Regions from separate parts of the Homo sapiens genome. Here region 2 is linked to region 1. The links come from fine-mapping of genetic effects on gene expression. A gene starts in region 1. The other region holds a variant in brackets. All regions are shown on one strand. Distances are between the middles of the regions. Region 1 holds the start of CCM2L (CCM2 like scaffold protein). Region 2 overlaps CCM2L (CCM2 like scaffold protein).

Region 1 (8,330 bases):
GATAATCAATCCCTTCTTCCTGCTGGGAGTAGATCCGGTTTTTATAATCCTCTACGCAGCCCTCCAGGCAGCCCCTGCCAATCAACTGGAGGTGGTTCAAAAGAGATGAATCCTATCTGCCACAATTGTTAAGTCTTTGAGAGCAGGGACTTTGTTTTGCTCATCTCTTCTTTGATTCACAAGCTAATTTTAATAATATGTTATCATTGTGCACTTCTGTTCCCATTCAATCCCTGCAGCAGCCTTCCAAGGCAGGTACTGCCATTATCCTGCTTTTGACACGTGAGGGCTCTGAGGCGCTAAGAGATGAGGTAATGTGTTCAAGGTCATATACATTTGAGCCTATATCCACCATCTCCAACCACTTCCGCTGACATTTACTAAGCACTTCATCTGTTATGGCTCTGCAGGGAGCACTGCAGGGAATACAGAGATAGTTTTCTAATTTTAGTGGCATGCAAAACACTTATTGTCCTATTTGAGATTCCCAGCAGTTCAGTGATGTTTGGAGCTAGTCCAGGAATAATATAAGCTTCCATTTTATAGACAGGGAAATTGAGGCCCAGAGAGAGGAAAAGGCTTGCAAAAGCCAGTCATGGAGATGCCAGAGCAAGAGACCACATGTCTCATGCCCGGCTGCTGCTCCAAGGGTGGGAATTCTGGGCTGGCTCAAGGGGTTAAGTTGGAGCTTTCACATCCAGAGCAGAGTCAGGAATTGGCTAGCACACCCTGGCCTCTTCCTGTTCGCCTGGCAGGCTGAGTGGAGATCTCACTTCCTGAGCTGGGGGGTGACCCGGCAGGATGCAGGGGAGCAGGAGGGAGTGGCTGTGAGAGCCAGCACTAAGCAACCTGGGCCATTTCCCCTCCAAGGGAGGGGAAGGAAGAGGAAGGGCTAGTGGCTAGGAGTCTCCTGTAGCTCTCACACCCAGAAGCGCGTTGGGGAGCTCTGACCCTCCCTTCAGGGCACTGATCTTGAACACCAGGCTTTCAGAAAAAGCCTTTCAGTAGAATCCAGTGCATTGGTACTTTACAGTTTCTAACTGCTCTTCCATCCATGGCCTGTGTCTTTCTGGCCACAGCTCTGATGAGCAGAGCAGGGCTTTGGGAAATTATTATTCCCATTGGAAAGATAAGAAAGCTGACCGATCTCGTCTGATCTCGGAAGCTAAGCAGGGTCGGGCCTGGTTAGTACTTGGATGGGAGATAAGAAAGCTGACGCCAAGAGAGGTTACAATGAGCAACCTGGACCAGGTCATATACAGCAAATCAGTTCCAGAGCTTAGGTCTCCAGAACCCAGGTGTCTTGGCAAGGTGTGGATGGGCCACACAGAACCTTTCCATCTGTCCTGGGTGGGGCATGCAGAATGCATAGGTCCTAGAGGTAAGGAACGCTAGGCTCAGATCCAGACCAGCCAGAAATCCCAGGTCCTCCTCTTACTCACTGTGTGACCTCCTTGAACCAGGCTCTGAACTTCAGCCTCAGTTTCAAAAATCTGTATAATAGGTACTATCATGGTACTCAACACTGTGAGTAAGTTAAAATATGTAAAGTGTTCAGCACAGAGCCACAAAGGGGACCTTGCCTCCCTAATATACTCCCAAGAGAGCAAAACAGCTCAAGACCCTATGAACATGGTCAGAATAAAAATGGAGTCACTAATGTTAAGAAAACCTTGACAAATAGAGCTGGGGAAGGCCATAGAGGGTTTTCATGCTTGCATAACAAATAAGACTGATAACAAAACAGATAACAACAAGACTGATAACAAAAAAGACTACAAAAATCACAACCTTGCACAAAGGCCATTGAAACCTTGCACAAAAAATACTTCCGCAAGGACATCTGCCCAGCAACTGCCTGTCCAACTTTAGACTGGCATCACCCTTGCTATTGATCTTTGCAATCAAGAATAATTATTTCAGAAACAATAATGTAATCCTTATTTTTTTCCTTTAAAAATCTTTGTCTTCCCCCCACCTCCCTGAAAATGCACATCGCTTACTATGGCATATGGGTAATTCCCACTGCAATGCTTAATTCCTAAGTGAAACATCTTTTATTTTAGAGAGCCTCTGTTTGTTCTTTAATTTGACAACCACTAAGCAGGTAAACAGTTAATGTTTACTGAGCACTTATTTTTTTTCAGTTTTTTTTTTTTTTTTTTTTTTTTTTGAGATGGAGTCTCAGCCAGTCACCAAGGCTGGAGTGTAATGGCTGGATCTCAGCTCACTGCAACCTCCACCACCCAGGTTCAAGCGCTTCTCCTGCCTCAGCCTCCAGAGTAGCTGGGATTACAGGCATGTGCCACCGCACCCGGCTGATTTTTGTATTTTTAGTAGAGACAAGGTTTCACCATGTTGGCGAGGCTGGTCTCGAACTCCTCACCTCAGGTGATCTGCCTGCCTCAGCCTCTCAAAGTGCTGGGATTACAGGTGTGAGCCACCACGCCCAGCCTTACTGAGTACTTAATATGTGCCAGAAGTTCTTCTAGGTGCATTTAATCCCCGCAAGGTCACTATGAGGTTAAACTAGTATTATGCTCATTTTAAAGACGGGAAAACTGAGGCACTGGTGGTTAAGGGACTTCCCAAAGGTCATAACCCTAGTAAGTGCCAAAGCCAGGATTCGAATTCAAGCAGCCTATCTTCAAAGCCCACGCATACTGCCTCCCTTAATAGTAATGATTAATTTTTTAAAATCATAACTTGCTTGGCTACAATACTCTCTATAAGGCACTTTCCATCCACCTTTTCATTTCTCACCACAGCAGCCTAGGGAGGGAGGCAGTGTTGACTCCCAACTTATAGAGAGGAGGGGGAAACAGGCTGTGACAGGGGGAACTGACTTGCCTTGCCAAGGTCACACAACAAGGTCAGTGGCAGAAGTAGGGCTGGAACTTGGAATTTTCCAAACCAGGACTTCAAATGTGGGGGGCCCTTTCCCAGCCTTGGCCAATTCCCAAGCTCCCCCAATAACCCGCCTTCTGGCTAGAGGCCTTGAGCCTCCCTCCTCAGGTCAGCTCTGCCTGGGCTTCCACCCTTCAGCTGCAGGGTCCCAAGGCTGTGTCCTCCACACCCCCTGCCCTCCCCATCAGATGGGAGGGGCAGGAACTCCAGGGCTGGTGGAGTTTCCGACCAGGCAGGAAAAAGAACAAAGGAACTGGATGTGGGGGTGGAAGGGATGGCCAGGAGGGTGGCAGGAGTAGAGGGGACATTTCACCATGGAATATGAAGTCAAGAAAGGGAAGAAGGTAGGTGGGAGGTTGGGAGGGACGAAGGGAGAGGAATGTCCCCAAAGCTGGGGAAGGGGGCAAACTGGGGCGGGGTGGGGGGTCGGTAGCGAGGGGCATAAGTGGAGCCTTTCTTCTCATTTGGAAGTAACTTCCTTCCCACTCTTGGACAGCCAGACAGTCAGGCTCTAAACTCCCTGTTTCTCCACTCTCAGTGGCCTCTGGCATCCCTAACGTGGACAGACAGGGACCTTCTCAGGAAACCTGGCCAGACGGACTCAGTTTGGGAGATTCTCCACACCTGCTTCCCTGGTGTTCCCCGCAGCTCCCTCCTGCAGCCTCTCAGACAGACGGACAGACAGACACCCAGCAGATCCATTCTCCTGCTCGTCACTGCCCCAAACAGAAGGACTCAGCCAGGGCAATTCCGATAGGATGTTGCCTACACAGGCTTGAGTCTCCCACCTGCCCCCTGCCCCTCCCACCTTTCTACAAGGGCGTATGTAAGGCGTCAGCCAGAAGCCATTCCCCTCACCCCTTCTGACTCTGAAGTTTTCTAGTATGCTTCTCTGGGTGTCTCACCTGGTTGTCTTTGGAGTTCAGGGAGGCGCTCTGATTTTAACTTCCATCTTACCCCCATTTCCACCCTCCCCTCTACCCCACCCCCACCAGAAACATATGTCCGGGCTGTTCTAAAAGGTGCCCACATGAATCACAGAGGGCTCAGAAGGGAGCCAAGACATACGTGCATGTTTTCTCTTAGTTTGTTCTTTTAATAGACATTTATTGAGTGCCTATTATGCACCAGGTATTTCTTTTTTTAAAGCAATAAATAAGTTAATGTAAAATTGCATAGAAGGGCCGGGTGCAGTGGCTCACACCTGTAATTCTAGCACTTTGGGAGGCCGAGGCGGGTGGATCACCTGAGGTCAGGGGTTCGAGACCAGCCAGGCCAACATGGCGAAACCCTGTCTCTACTAAAAATACAAAAATTAACTGGGCATGGTGGCACATGCCTGTAATCCCAGCTACTAAGGAGGCTGAAGCTTGAACCTAGGAGGCAGAGGTTGCAGTGAGCCAAGATCGCGCCACTGCACTCCAGCCTGGGTGACAGAGTGAGACTCTGTCTAAAATAAATAAATAAATACATAAATAAAAATTTTTTAAAAATCATAGGAGGTCCCATACTCAGTGCTGGAGGAAACTGATCAGTTTGAGTCGAGAACTGACGGGTGGAAGGAAAGTGGGTAGGGAAGAGTGTTTGAGGCAGAGGAACAGCATGTGCAAAACCCCACAGTGGGAAGTCACATAGCAAGCCAGAGGGACTGAAGGAGGACTGTGTAGTGGGGGCCCAGGGGACAAGAATGAGGCAGATGGGGCTGGACAGGTGGGCAGAGCTGAGCCATTCAGGGCCACCAACAAAAATACTTACCCCTCCCCACCCCTAATACACACACATACGCAAGACAAAGTCCCAGCTCCATAGCCGGCATTCAAGATATGTTCGTCTCATAATCTAGCCACGGCAGACTGACTGCACACAGCTTCTCCAGGCTCACCCTCATCCAGCCTTTGAGGCATCCAGAATTTTGCACATGCTGTGCCCTCTGCTTGGCATGCTTTCTCCCAGATAGTTTCTTCTCATTCCTTAAAGTTGCTACATACCCCATCCTGGCTCCATGATATGGGTTCTAACATAAGCTGAGTACCCATAAGAATCACCTGAGGGCTCATTAAAACACAGATCACTGGGTCTTACCCCCAGTTTCTGGGCCAATAGGCCTGGGATGGGGTTCAAGAAATTGCATTTCTGGCCAGGCACAGTGACTCACGCCTGTAATCGCAACACTTTGGGAGGCTGAGGCAGGAGGATTGCATGAGCCTAGGAGTTCAAGACCAGACTGGGCAACATAGTAAGACCCCATCTCTTTAAAAAATATATATTAGCTAGGTGTGGTGGTGGTGCATGCCTGTGGTCCTAGCTACTGTGAGGCAGAGGTGGGAGGATCGCTGAGTCAGAAAGAATTTGCAATTCTAATAACCCACAGGTTATGCTGATGGCTGTGGGGCCACACTTTGAGAACCACCGGTTTAGATCCTGGCTACTCAAAGCGTGGTGCACAGACCAGTAGTATCAGCACCAGATGGGAGCTTGGTAGAAATGCACAGTCTCAAGCTCCAACCCAACTGTACTGAATCAAAACTCCAGGGCAGATAAAGTTGGAAACTCACTAGTCTAGGTCATTTATCACAAGCCCTGGAGGCAAGGATAGGATCCAGGTCTCCACTGAATCCTCAGCACCCAGCAGAGTCCAGCCATACAGGTGTAAATGTTTACTGAATGAATGAGTAAATGAACAGATGTATTTGTGGACTTGTGTTCTGTTTACCTGGAAAGAACGTGAGCTCCTTGCAGGCAGGGAGGTTGTCTTACTCACATTTGCCTTGTTACACAGTTAAGTAATCACACCACACATTCACTCAGTGGTTTTCAGCTGAGCTGCCTTTTGAAATTACCTAAGAAGGCTTAAAAAAATCTTAATGGACCGAGCTCATTAACCCCAATGGCTCACACCTGTAATCCCAGCACTTTGGGAGGCCAAGGCAGGAGAATCATTTGAGCTCAGGAGTTCAAGCCAGCCCAGGCAACGCAGTGAGACCTCATCTCTACTAAAAATTTAAAAAATTAGCAGGGCATGGTAGCACACACCTGTAGTCCCAATTACTTGGAAGGCTGAGGCAGAGGGATCGCTTGAACCTAAGAGATCAAGGCTGCAGTGAGCTATGATTGTGCCACTGCACTTCAATCTGGGCAACAGAGCAACATCCTATCTCAAAAAAATTAAAAAATAAAAAATTTTATGCCTGGGTCTCAGTCCCAGAATTTCTTATTCAGTTGGTTGGGAGTGTAACCTGAACATCTGAAGTTTTAAAAGCTCCCCCCGTAGTTCGTGTGTGTGTGGAGTGGGGGGGTGGGGGTTGTTTGTTTTGTTCCTTCGACAAGGTCTTACTCTGTCACCCAGGCTGGAGTACGGTGTTGCAATCGCAGCTCACAGCAGCCTCGACCTCCCAGGCTCAGGTGATCCTCCCACCTTGGCCTCCCAAGTAGCTGGGATTACAGGTACATACCACCACACCCGGCTAATTTTTTTTTTTTGGCATATTTTTTGTAGAGACAGTTTCACCATGTTGTCAAGGCTGGTCTCAAACTCCTGGGCTCCAGCTCTCCTCCTGCCTCAGCCTCCCAAAGTGCTAGGATTACAGGCGTAAACCACCACGCCTGGCCTTCCCCAGGTAGTACTAAAGGATAGCCAGGGCTGGGAGCGACTGCTCTAAATGCAGTCTCACACTTGAGCATGTATCAGAAGCACCTGGTGGGCTTGTTAAGCCCTAATTGCTGGGCCCTACTCCCAGAGTTTCTAATTTAGTGGGTCTGGGATGGGGCCTGATAATCTGCATTTCTCTCAGTTCCTAGGTGGTGCTGCTGGTCCAGGAATCTCATGTTGAGAAATGCTGTTCTAGATGGAACTCAAACTTTCTTTTGAGATTCAGATGGCTGGTCTGGGCTGAGCCCCAGAATTTACACCTTTAACCTTGATCCAGGCCATTTTTATGCAGGTGCCTCTGGATTCTACTTAAATGTACTTATTAATAATTTATAACTTTTAGGAAAGCACAGAGAATAGCCTAAGAAATAGCTATGCACCCACCACCACTCCACCACATTGAATCCTAATCTATATTATATATATTTATGTATATGATTTATATATATGTGTGTACATATATATATATATATTTTTTTTTTTTTTTTGAGACAGAGTCTTGTTCTGTTGCCCAGGCTGGAGTGCAATGGCTCCATCTTGGCTCACTGCAACCTCTGCCTCTGCCTCCTGGGTTCAAGTGATTCTCCTGACTCAGCCTCCCGAGTAGCTGGGATTACAGGCTCCTGGCACAACGCCTGACAAATTTTTGTAATTTTAGTAGAGTCAGGGTTTCACCATGTTGGCCAGGCTAGTCTCCAACTCCTGACCTCAAGTGATCCACCCGCCTTGGCCTCCCAAAGTGCTGGGATTACAGGTATGAGCCACCACGCCTGGCCTTGAATCCTAACATTTTTCTGTATTTGCCCCAGCCTAGACTCATTCCTCAAACCTGTTTGGCAGGAGCTACACTGTCACCTGGGTGTTTAGAAAGAAGGTCGTTGGATCCAGAATGCCCAAGGTGAACTACTGGTTCCACCACTACTAGCTGGTGACTTTATCAGTTAGTTCCTCTCTAGGGTTTACTTTCTCCATCTGTAAAATGGGACTTACAGAGGTACCCCTTCTGCAGAGTTTTGGTGAGAATTAAATTAGGTAATGTAAGTAAAAGTGAGCATAGTAAGAGTTCAATAAAAGCAGCCACTGTTATCACTCTCATTCCTCCTCTCCTCCCCAGGGCTTTGTATCCCCCATCCGAAGGCTGGTGTTCCCCAAGGCCGGGCGCCGGGCAGCCTGTAGGAGCAGCGTGAGCCGCCGGCCCCTGCACTCGATGCCCCTTTATCCCCCCGACTACCTCATCGACCCCCAGATTCTGCTGTGTGACTACCTGGAGAAAGAGGTCAAGGTGCGTGCAGGATGAGAAGGGGTGGGAAAACCTTGGGGTGAGGAGACCTTCACTTCTCCTTGACACCAAGTTCTGATCAGCCGTATCTCACACAGGGGAAGTTGTGGCTCATTGGAAAGAGGCCTGGGTTCATGTCAGCCTTGCCCCCACCTTCAGCAAGTGACCTCCATCTGCTGAGCCTCCTCAGTGTTCCCATCTCAACATGAGGCTCAAAACCTACCCCCAGTGGAGAGTGGATGGGAGAGTGTTCTGTGCGTGGAAAAGTCCTATCTTTTGTCAACTGACATAACAGAAAGGGAGACTCACTAAAAGAAAATGATGTTTACTCAGGAATAGGCATTGCAATGGGAATATGCGTGCCATAGTAAACTGTGTATTCAGGAGGTAAAGGAAGGCAAAGGTTTTTAAAGGAAAAGTGAGGAGGATTACATAATTGTTTTGAGATAATTATACCTGGCTGCAAGGATCAATAACAAGGATGGCACCATTTCC
Region 2 (8,330 bases), 22 kb after region 1:
GTGGCGCTGCTTCCTGGGATTGATCTCGAATGGTGTCCCCCACATAGTTGCGGAGTAAGCTGGGGCCCCTCGAGATCCAGCAGTTTGCGATGCTGCTGCGGGAGTACCGGCTGGGGCTGCCCATCCAGGACTATTGCACAGGCCTGCTGAAGCTCTACGGAGACCGGCGCAAGTTCCTCCTCCTTGGTGAGCCCCCGCTGTACCCCCAGAGGTCAGCTAGGGCCCCTGCTTGGTCCATGCCATCCCAGTCAGGCACCAGGCTGCAAATGTTTTCTCCTTATCTTTCAGCCTCTGATGAAACCCAGATCATGAGATTCACAGGGCAGATGAGGAGCCCAAAGTGCAGAGTAGGGAAAGGACTTGTCAGAGCTGGGAGACACTGTTGATAAGAAGAACTAAGCAGTGGTGTGGCCATTTCATCCTCACAGCAAAGCTGCGAGAGGGACTGATTCTTCCCATCTTACCCCACACGGAAGCTGAGGCTCAGAAAGGCTAAGGAACATGTCCAAGGTCACACAGCTAGTAAGGAGGGCTAATAATAACAGGAGGAATAATACGAATAAGCTGACATGTGCTTGGCAGTTACCCTGTGCCAAGCATCATCTCATTAAATGCCCCCAGTTCTGAGAAGTAGATACTATTAATGGTCCCCATTTTGCAGGTGAGGAAACTGAGACTCAGAGTTACAAAGTAAAGGACTGAGGTCACATAGCTAGTAAGTAGGAATGGAAATAAAACAAACTGTTTACAGAGTGCTCAGTATGTGCTGAGTACCTTGTTATTTAATCCTCACATCCCTACCCAGAGAACAGGTGCAATTATCTGTTTTACAGGTGAGGAAAATGAGGTTCAACATAATTAATCAATGGGAATATAATGATGGTACTAATAATAACAAAAATAGGCCTGGCGAGGTGGCTCACACCTGTAATCCCAGCACTTTGGGAGGCTGAAGCTGGCGGATCACCTGAGGTCAGGAGTTCAAGACCAGCCTGGCCAACATGAAACCCTGTCTCTACTAAAAATACAAAAATTAGCAGGGCGTGGTGGTGTGCGCCTGTAATCCCAGCTACTTGGGAGGCTGAGGCATGAGAATCTCTTGAACCCGGGAGGCAGAGGCTATAATAATAATAATAAAAGTACAGTAATCTAGTATGTAGTGAGCATTCACTGTGTGCTGAGCGCTGTGTCGTTATTCGCTGGCTCAGACAGTTAAGGACCTTGGGCAAGGCCACACAGCCAGTGAGTGACAGCAGGGATTTGCACCCAGATCTGCAGAGAGGACGCTTCCCCTGTGGAAGGGAAAGGGAACGTGTCCTGGGGACTCACCATGCCCCTCGGCTCGCAGGGATGCGGCCCTTCATCCCGGACCAGGACATCGGCTACTTCGAGGGCTTCCTGGAGGGCGTGGGCATCCGCGAGGGCGGCATCCTCACTGACAGCTTCGGCCGCATCAAGCGCAGCATGAGCTCCACGTCGGCCTCCGCAGTGCGCAGCTACGATGGCGCGGCGCAGCGGCCCGAGGCACAGGCCTTCCACCGGCTGCTGGCTGACATCACGCACGACATCGAGGCGCTGGCCCCCGATGACGACGACGACGACGAGGATGAGCCCCGGGGCTCCAGGGGCGGGAGCGACGCCGCAGAAGACAACTACCTGTAGCCACCGCCCCTGCGGACGGCGTGGCTCAGCAGCCCACCTCTGAGTCTCAGCTTTGCTTCGGGGACCCTATCCCCAGGGCCCCCCCATCACACCTGGCGGGGCCGGGGGGTCTTCACTCCAGGGTCTCGCTCCCTGCCCTTGGGGCCCGGGGCCATGCAGTACCTGGAGTGTCCTGCAGGGGGAAAGCGAAGCCGGGCCCTGAAGTCCGGGGCAGTCACCCGGGGCTCCTGGGCCGCTCTGCCGGGCTGGGGCTGAGCAGCGATCCTGCTTTGTCCCAGAAGTCCAGAGGGATCAGCCCCAGAACACACCCTCCTCCCCGGGACGCCGCAGCTTTCTGGAGGCTGAGGAAGGCATGAAGAGTGGGCTCCACCTGCTGGCCGACTGAGAAAAGAATTTCCAGAACTCGGTCCTATTTTACAGATTGAGAAACTATGGTTCAAGAAGAGAGGACGGGGCTTGAGGGAATCTCCTGATTCTCCTTATATGACCTCAAACTGACCATACTAAACAGTGTAGAAGGTCTTTTTAAGGCTCTAAATGTCAGGGTCTCCCATCCCCTGATGCCTGACTTGTACAGTCAGTGTGGAGTAGACGGTTTCCTCCACCCAGGGTTGACTCAGGGGGATGATCTGGGTCCCATTCTGGTCTTAAGACCCCAAACAAGGGTTTTTTCAGCTCCAGGATCTGGAGCCTCTATCTGGTTAGTGTCGTAACCTCTGTGTGCCTCCCGTTACCCCATCTGTCCAGTGAGCTCAGCCCCCATCCACCTAACAGGGTGGCCACAGGGATTACTGAGGGTTAAGACCTTAGAACTGGGTCTAGCACCCGATAAGAGCTCAATAAATGTTGTTCCTTTCCACATCAAACATTTTATGACTCAGTTTACCTTTCTTGCCTTGTAATAAGCAAAAGATGTCTGGGTGCATCCTACCCCAACTGAAGTGGTGGTGAGCTATTCAGAAGATCCTCAGGGGAGTTCACTGTTTGGGAAGAAGAAACAGTACTTGTTCCCTTGCAGCCTTGTTACAGCCTAGCTCTGTGCTCAAGTCACAAACAAGAAATAGCCAAGACTCCACAGGCAGCTATCTGGGAGTCTGGGGTAGTCAAAGAAATGGGAAGGAAAGGTTGGAGAGGTAGAGAAGTCAGGATAAGGACAGCATTCAGCACAGCCTGAGTAAAGGCTGGAAAGCTAAAAGGGATGAGGCCTGAGAGGAGGCCAGAGACTCACATAGGAGATCCAAAATGTGTTTGTAAAACCTTGCAAAGGCTTCCATGGCCAGACACATTGTACACACCATAAAATAGGCACTGTTAGCAATTTTCAAAAAAATGTTATTAGGACTCCAGGTCCAAAGAGTTCCATAATTCATACTTGGTTTGTGGTAAATGATCATCCCATCATCACTGGTCCATGTAGGGCCCTTCTGATGTTTTATTTTACCCTCTCCTGATCCACATGTTCCCCACACTCCTTTTCCCTCTTTACTATGAGCGCCTAACCCTATGTGCTGATATATGTCCCTGGACCTAAACTACACAGTGCTTTGTGTGTGTGTTTGTATAAATGATATTACATAAGAATTTCACTCTATTCCTTCTCTCACTCTGTAATGTTTTTCTATTTAAAAAGAAAACTAAGAAAATTTTTAGAGACAGGTTTTTGCTCTGTCACCCAGGCTGGACTGCAATGGTGCAGTGACAGCTCACTGCAAGAACTCCTGGGCTTAAGTGATCCTCCTGCCTCGCCCTCCCAAAGTGCTGGGATTAAAGGCATGAACCACCAAGCCCAGCCACCCTATAATGTTTTAAATACCTACATATGTGCTGTTGAAAAATCTCACTGTTGCATCCAACTGCTGCAAAATATTTCGAGTTGAGCATCCGCTGTTTTCTTTATCCATCTCCCCAGAGATGAACACCCAGGTTGCTTCCAACTCCCTCTTACCACAAACAACACTGTGATTGATGAACATTTTTGTACATGAAACTTATGGGCCTATGTGAGCATTTCTTTGGGCTCTAAATCCAAGAGTGGAATTACTAGATCACAGGGCAGGTTTTGAATTTCATTAACTTCTTCCAGAATGGCTTTCACCAACGGTGAGTGAAGGATGCTGTTTCCCGACATCTTCATCAGATTTTTCATCATCTGATTTTGTAACTTTGCATTCAGTGTGGGTGTAAGGTGGCAAGTTGTTTTAATTTGCATTTCTCTGTTAATCCTGAAATTTATAACTTCCTTCTATACTAGTCAGCCATTTGAGCTTTCCTTTCTGTGACTTCCTTGTTCATATCTTTTGTTCATTTCCTACTGGGCTTCCTGTCTTTTTCTCATTGATTTGCAAGAGTAGTTTATAAATTTTAGATATTAATCCCTTTTGGATGTTGATGTTCCAGGTATATTCACCTAATATATTTGCCTTCTGTCAAGTTTATCTGTGACAGTACTCAAACTTCAGCAGGCATCAGAAT[G/C]TCCTGGAAGGCTTGCTAAAACACAGATGTCTGAGCCCCACTCCTAGAGATTCTCCATAAGAGAAGGGGAAGGGCCTGAAAATTTGCTTTTTCTTTTTTGGGGGGACAGAGTCTTGCTCTGTCACCCAGGCTGGTGTGCAGTGACGCAATCTCAGCTCACTGCAACCTCTGTGCCTCAGCCTGCTGAGTAGCTGGGATTACAGGCATGCGCCACCATGCCTGTCTAATTTTTGTATTTTTAGTAGAGATTGGGTTTCACCATGTTGGCCAGGCTGGTCTCAAACTCCTGACCTCAGGTATCTGCCCTCCTCGGCCATCCAAAGTGCTGGGATTACAGGCATGAGCCATCGTGCCTGGCCAATAATTTGCATTTCTAACAAGTACCCAGGTGATGCTGATGGTCCAGGGACCGCTCTGAGAACAACTGATTTGTGATGGCTTCCATTGGGCAAACTTGTTCTATTGAGCAAATTCCTTAATTTTGAGGTTGTCGATTTTATTTATTTTCATTTTCTGGATGAAGGAACTGGAGTTCAAGAGGTGAAGTGAATACCCCAAGGTCACACAGTGAGCTGGGCTTTGGACTCATGTCTGGCTAACCCAGAGCCCATGTCCCTAGCCTCTCTACTGTCCTGTCTCTGAGACTTTGGGATGTAGTGGCCGTAGCCTGAGGCATTCCGACCTGAGGCTACAGGGAGCCTTAGTAAGTTCCTGAGCAAGGCAGCCGGAGAGGGAACAGTTGGTTGGGTAGGGACAGGGGCCAAAGATATAGGAGTCTCTCTTAAAGGCCTTGGGGCTTTCCAAGAAAAGCTCAAAAACTGCCGAAAATCCTAGCCACAGCACAGTGACAGGGCTGCTGAGAGGCACTGGGACAGACAGTTCTTACCCCACAGCTCCAGGGATGGGGTAATTTCCCTCACACCCCAAGGAAGTCCCCACCCGCTCCGGAACTACCCTCTTACCAAAGCCATGTAACCCCTTAGTTCCTGGGGTCCAAAGGGCACTGTCTGGGGCAACCCAGGCACTGAGTCTGGAGACTCTGGCCACACTTCCTCCTGTAGCATCCAGAGACCCTGCCAGGAATTGCTTCCCTTGTTGGTTCAGTTCCTGACATCACAAGAGGGGAAAACCCCCTAGGGGTGGGATAGCTGGTTCCCAAGGACTTCTAGGGGTAGTGCAAGTATGGAACTTCCCCACCAGCTGGATCCCCTGGGGACGGTCTTGGCCCAAACGTGAGTGGTAAAATTGTCTCCAGCTGCCGTAGATGGACGCCTCTCCCAAGGTGGGGCCCTGAAACTTCCTACCCACTCCCCACTTCCACTGGCAGCTCCCAGCAGTCCTTCCCAACTATGTGCTCAGGAGCAGGAGTCCTGGGGCCACTGTCATTCAGCCGCCAAGCATTTAGAGGGCACTTGCTCTGTGCCAGGCATTGCACAAGACACTAGAGGGAGATACAGCACAGTCTGCCCACTGAGGGGCACACTGATGGGGAAAACAGTTCCCAGATAATCATAGCACAAAGTTCTCAATTGTAAAGTCAAAGAGTGAGACACCAGCTCTTTCTGGGGAAGCTGGAAAAGGTTTCACAGGGGAGGTGAGCCATGAGCGAGAGCTTGAAGGACAAGGTTTTTGGTGGGTGAACAATAGAAGAGAGAGCCCTCCAGATGGGGACCCAGCACAAGCAAAGGCAGGGGAGCTTGAAGGAGCATGGCGTGCTCTAGGACTGGCAACCGGTTAGCACTCGTGCAGCACTTAGGCTCCCTGGCCAGAGGGTCGGAGGGTTTTTAATCCGAGCTCTGCCATCTGCTTGTTCGGTGACCTTGGGAAAGCCCCTAAAATGTCCCTGGGTCTTGGTTTCCTCATCTGTAAAGTGGGGTTGATAATAGCCTCACCCTCGTAGATCCCATAGATTGTCATGAGTCTTAAGATATTTCACGTAAAAGTATATGTAGAAAGTGCTCAATTAGTGACCATTGTGATAGCTGGAGGAACACGGAGTGTGTGAGGTGGGGGACGAGGTGGGTGGGTAGGAGTTGCAGGAGAGGAAACCAGAGAAGTGGATAGATTAGAAGCCCTTGAAGGGCAGGCTAGGAAGCATAGGCAATGGGAGGCTATCTAATGTTTGTTGTTGTTATTGTTGTTTTTGTTATCGTTGTTTGAGGCGGGTTCTCACTCTGTCACCCAGCTGGAGTGCAGTGGAACAATCAAAGCTCACTGCAGCCTCCAGCTCCTGGGCTCAAGCCATTCTCAGCCTTCAAAGTAGCAGAATTACAGGTGTGCGCCACCAGGCCTGGCTATTTCTAAATTTTTTTTGTAGAGACGTGCTCTCTTTATGTTGCCCAGGATGGTCTTGAACTCCTGAGCTCAAGGGATCCACCCGCCTGAGCCTCCCAAAGTGCTGAGATTACAGGCGTGAACAAAGGTGCCCCACCTGGGAACAAGCCAGGGGACCTGCATTTTCTTGAAGCGAATCAAGCTGCTGGAGAGGAGGATCAATAGGAAAACAGAGGAGCGTCTGGAAGCAGGGAAGTGGGGAGGAGGCTGGAACCAGGACCACATGAGAGATGGTAAGACCTGACTGAGCTGGGGTAAGAGGAAGGAAGAGGAGAGAGTAGGTTCAAAGAGGAAAGAAGAGAAAGAGAACTCTGCCTACCCCCACCCCCACTCAGAAATAGTAGCCCCTCACATTCTTTGACCAAATTCATTCGTTCATTCATTCATTCATTCCACAACCATTTATTTAGCATTTAAACCCTGGCCTCTTGGAGTTTACATTCTAGGAGTTTATATTACTATTAAATGTTACTAGGAGCTTCCAGATGCAGTAACGACCCAATCAGGTCTAAATGGCCAGAAATTGATGGCCCTCTTGGTGGGTCCTCCCACTTGACTTGTTGCTTATCCTCAGGTATTTCAGAGCAGGGGCAGAGGGGTCTTAAAGCCAGGCCAGCCTGTTCTGCCCACTTCCTACCTTGGGGAGTTCACTGTCTCCTATGGCAGCCCCTTCTATCCAATGCAAGAGCTAACATCCACCTCCTTGTCCCCCCACTCCCTGCCCGCCGTCCCCAGGGCCCCCCACCTGGCTTCTAACATCACCTTTAAGAGCCCTACACGGTATCCCTGATGCCTCAGCCACTGGGCAGCCCTGCAGCAACGTGCAGAAAATGATGCAATCTGCAGAAACTTCTCAACTTCTCATTTATATCTAAAAGCAGACTGTTCTCAAAAAAAATATTTTCAAAGCCTATCATGCAGACAAAGGGGGAGTGCGTTTGATGTGTAAAGACCTACAAGTAAATAAGACCAACAGCCTAATAGAAAAATAGGCAAATTATTTATACAGACAGTTCACAGAAAATACAAACGACTCTAAAACGTGTGACAAGATGTTCAACCTCACTCATAAGATAAATGCAAATTAACACAACACCGAGCAACCATTTTTCAATTAAGAGATTGGCAAAGTTTGGAAAAGTGTGATCACTCACTATGTGGGTGTAGGTGTGAGGAAACAGACACTCTCACACATTCCTGGTGGGAGAGCAAGTTGGTATAAACCCTACTGAGCAATATCTACCAGGATGCAGGAGCCCTTTGATGCAACAATTCCACTGCCAAGAATTTCTCCGGCATTTATACCCACACGAGTGGAAACCAATGTGCAAGGAAAGTCATTGCAGCTTTGTCTCTAATAACAAGAGTTTGGAAATAAACCAAATGTTCAGTGATAGGGGTCTGGTTAAATGAACTGTGGCTCATGCAGGCAATAAAATACCATGCAGCCATAAATAAGAACTAGGTAGCTCTGTGCACCGATACAGAATTATTTCCAAGATAGAGTAAGTGAAAAAAAAAAAAAAAAGCAAAGTACAGAACAATGCACTTTGAATAGTGCTGTATTTTTGTTTAAGGAGGCGGGAAATGTCTTTTAAGTATAGAATAGTTCTGGAAGGTACACAAAACAAGTTATAGTTGTGCTTCTGAGCTGGAGGAGTGTGTGGCTATAGAATAAAGAGGGAAGGAGACTTTCTCTGCATGATGTGTCCTAAATGTTATGTCATGAATATGAATTACAGCAGAGCAATTTTTTCAAAAACCACTATTCCAGTATTGTGGTATTTACTGAACTCTATAGACACTATCTGTTTCCATATCTGTCTGACCCCTCCAACCCCACGCCTACTCTCAACACTCAC

Evidence for each region.
Region 2: its variant is fine-mapped to the expression of CCM2L in whole blood (TOPMed, PIP above 0.99).

What each region holds. Positions count from the first base shown.
Region 1 is chr20:32,007,234-32,015,563 of GRCh38, forward strand. It overlaps CCM2L (CCM2 like scaffold protein), which reads left to right and starts at 3,205. Exons shown (of 10, transcript NM_001365692.1): 1 at 3,205-3,251; 2 at 7,671-7,838. The coding sequence starts at 3,222. It also overlaps the pseudogene RNA5SP481. RefSeq lists enhancers at 3,027-3,554, 4,465-5,056.
Region 2 is chr20:32,029,653-32,037,982 of GRCh38, forward strand. CCM2L (CCM2 like scaffold protein) reads left to right here. Exons shown (of 10, transcript NM_001365692.1): 9 at 48-186; 10 at 1,349-2,528. The coding sequence ends at 1,662. Among named protein-coding and RNA genes, the nearest start is that of HCK, 18 kb to the right of the region's middle. RefSeq lists enhancers at 1,559-2,086, 5,501-5,680 and a silencer at 1,748-1,797. The variant G/C (reference allele first, on the strand shown) is at 4,135.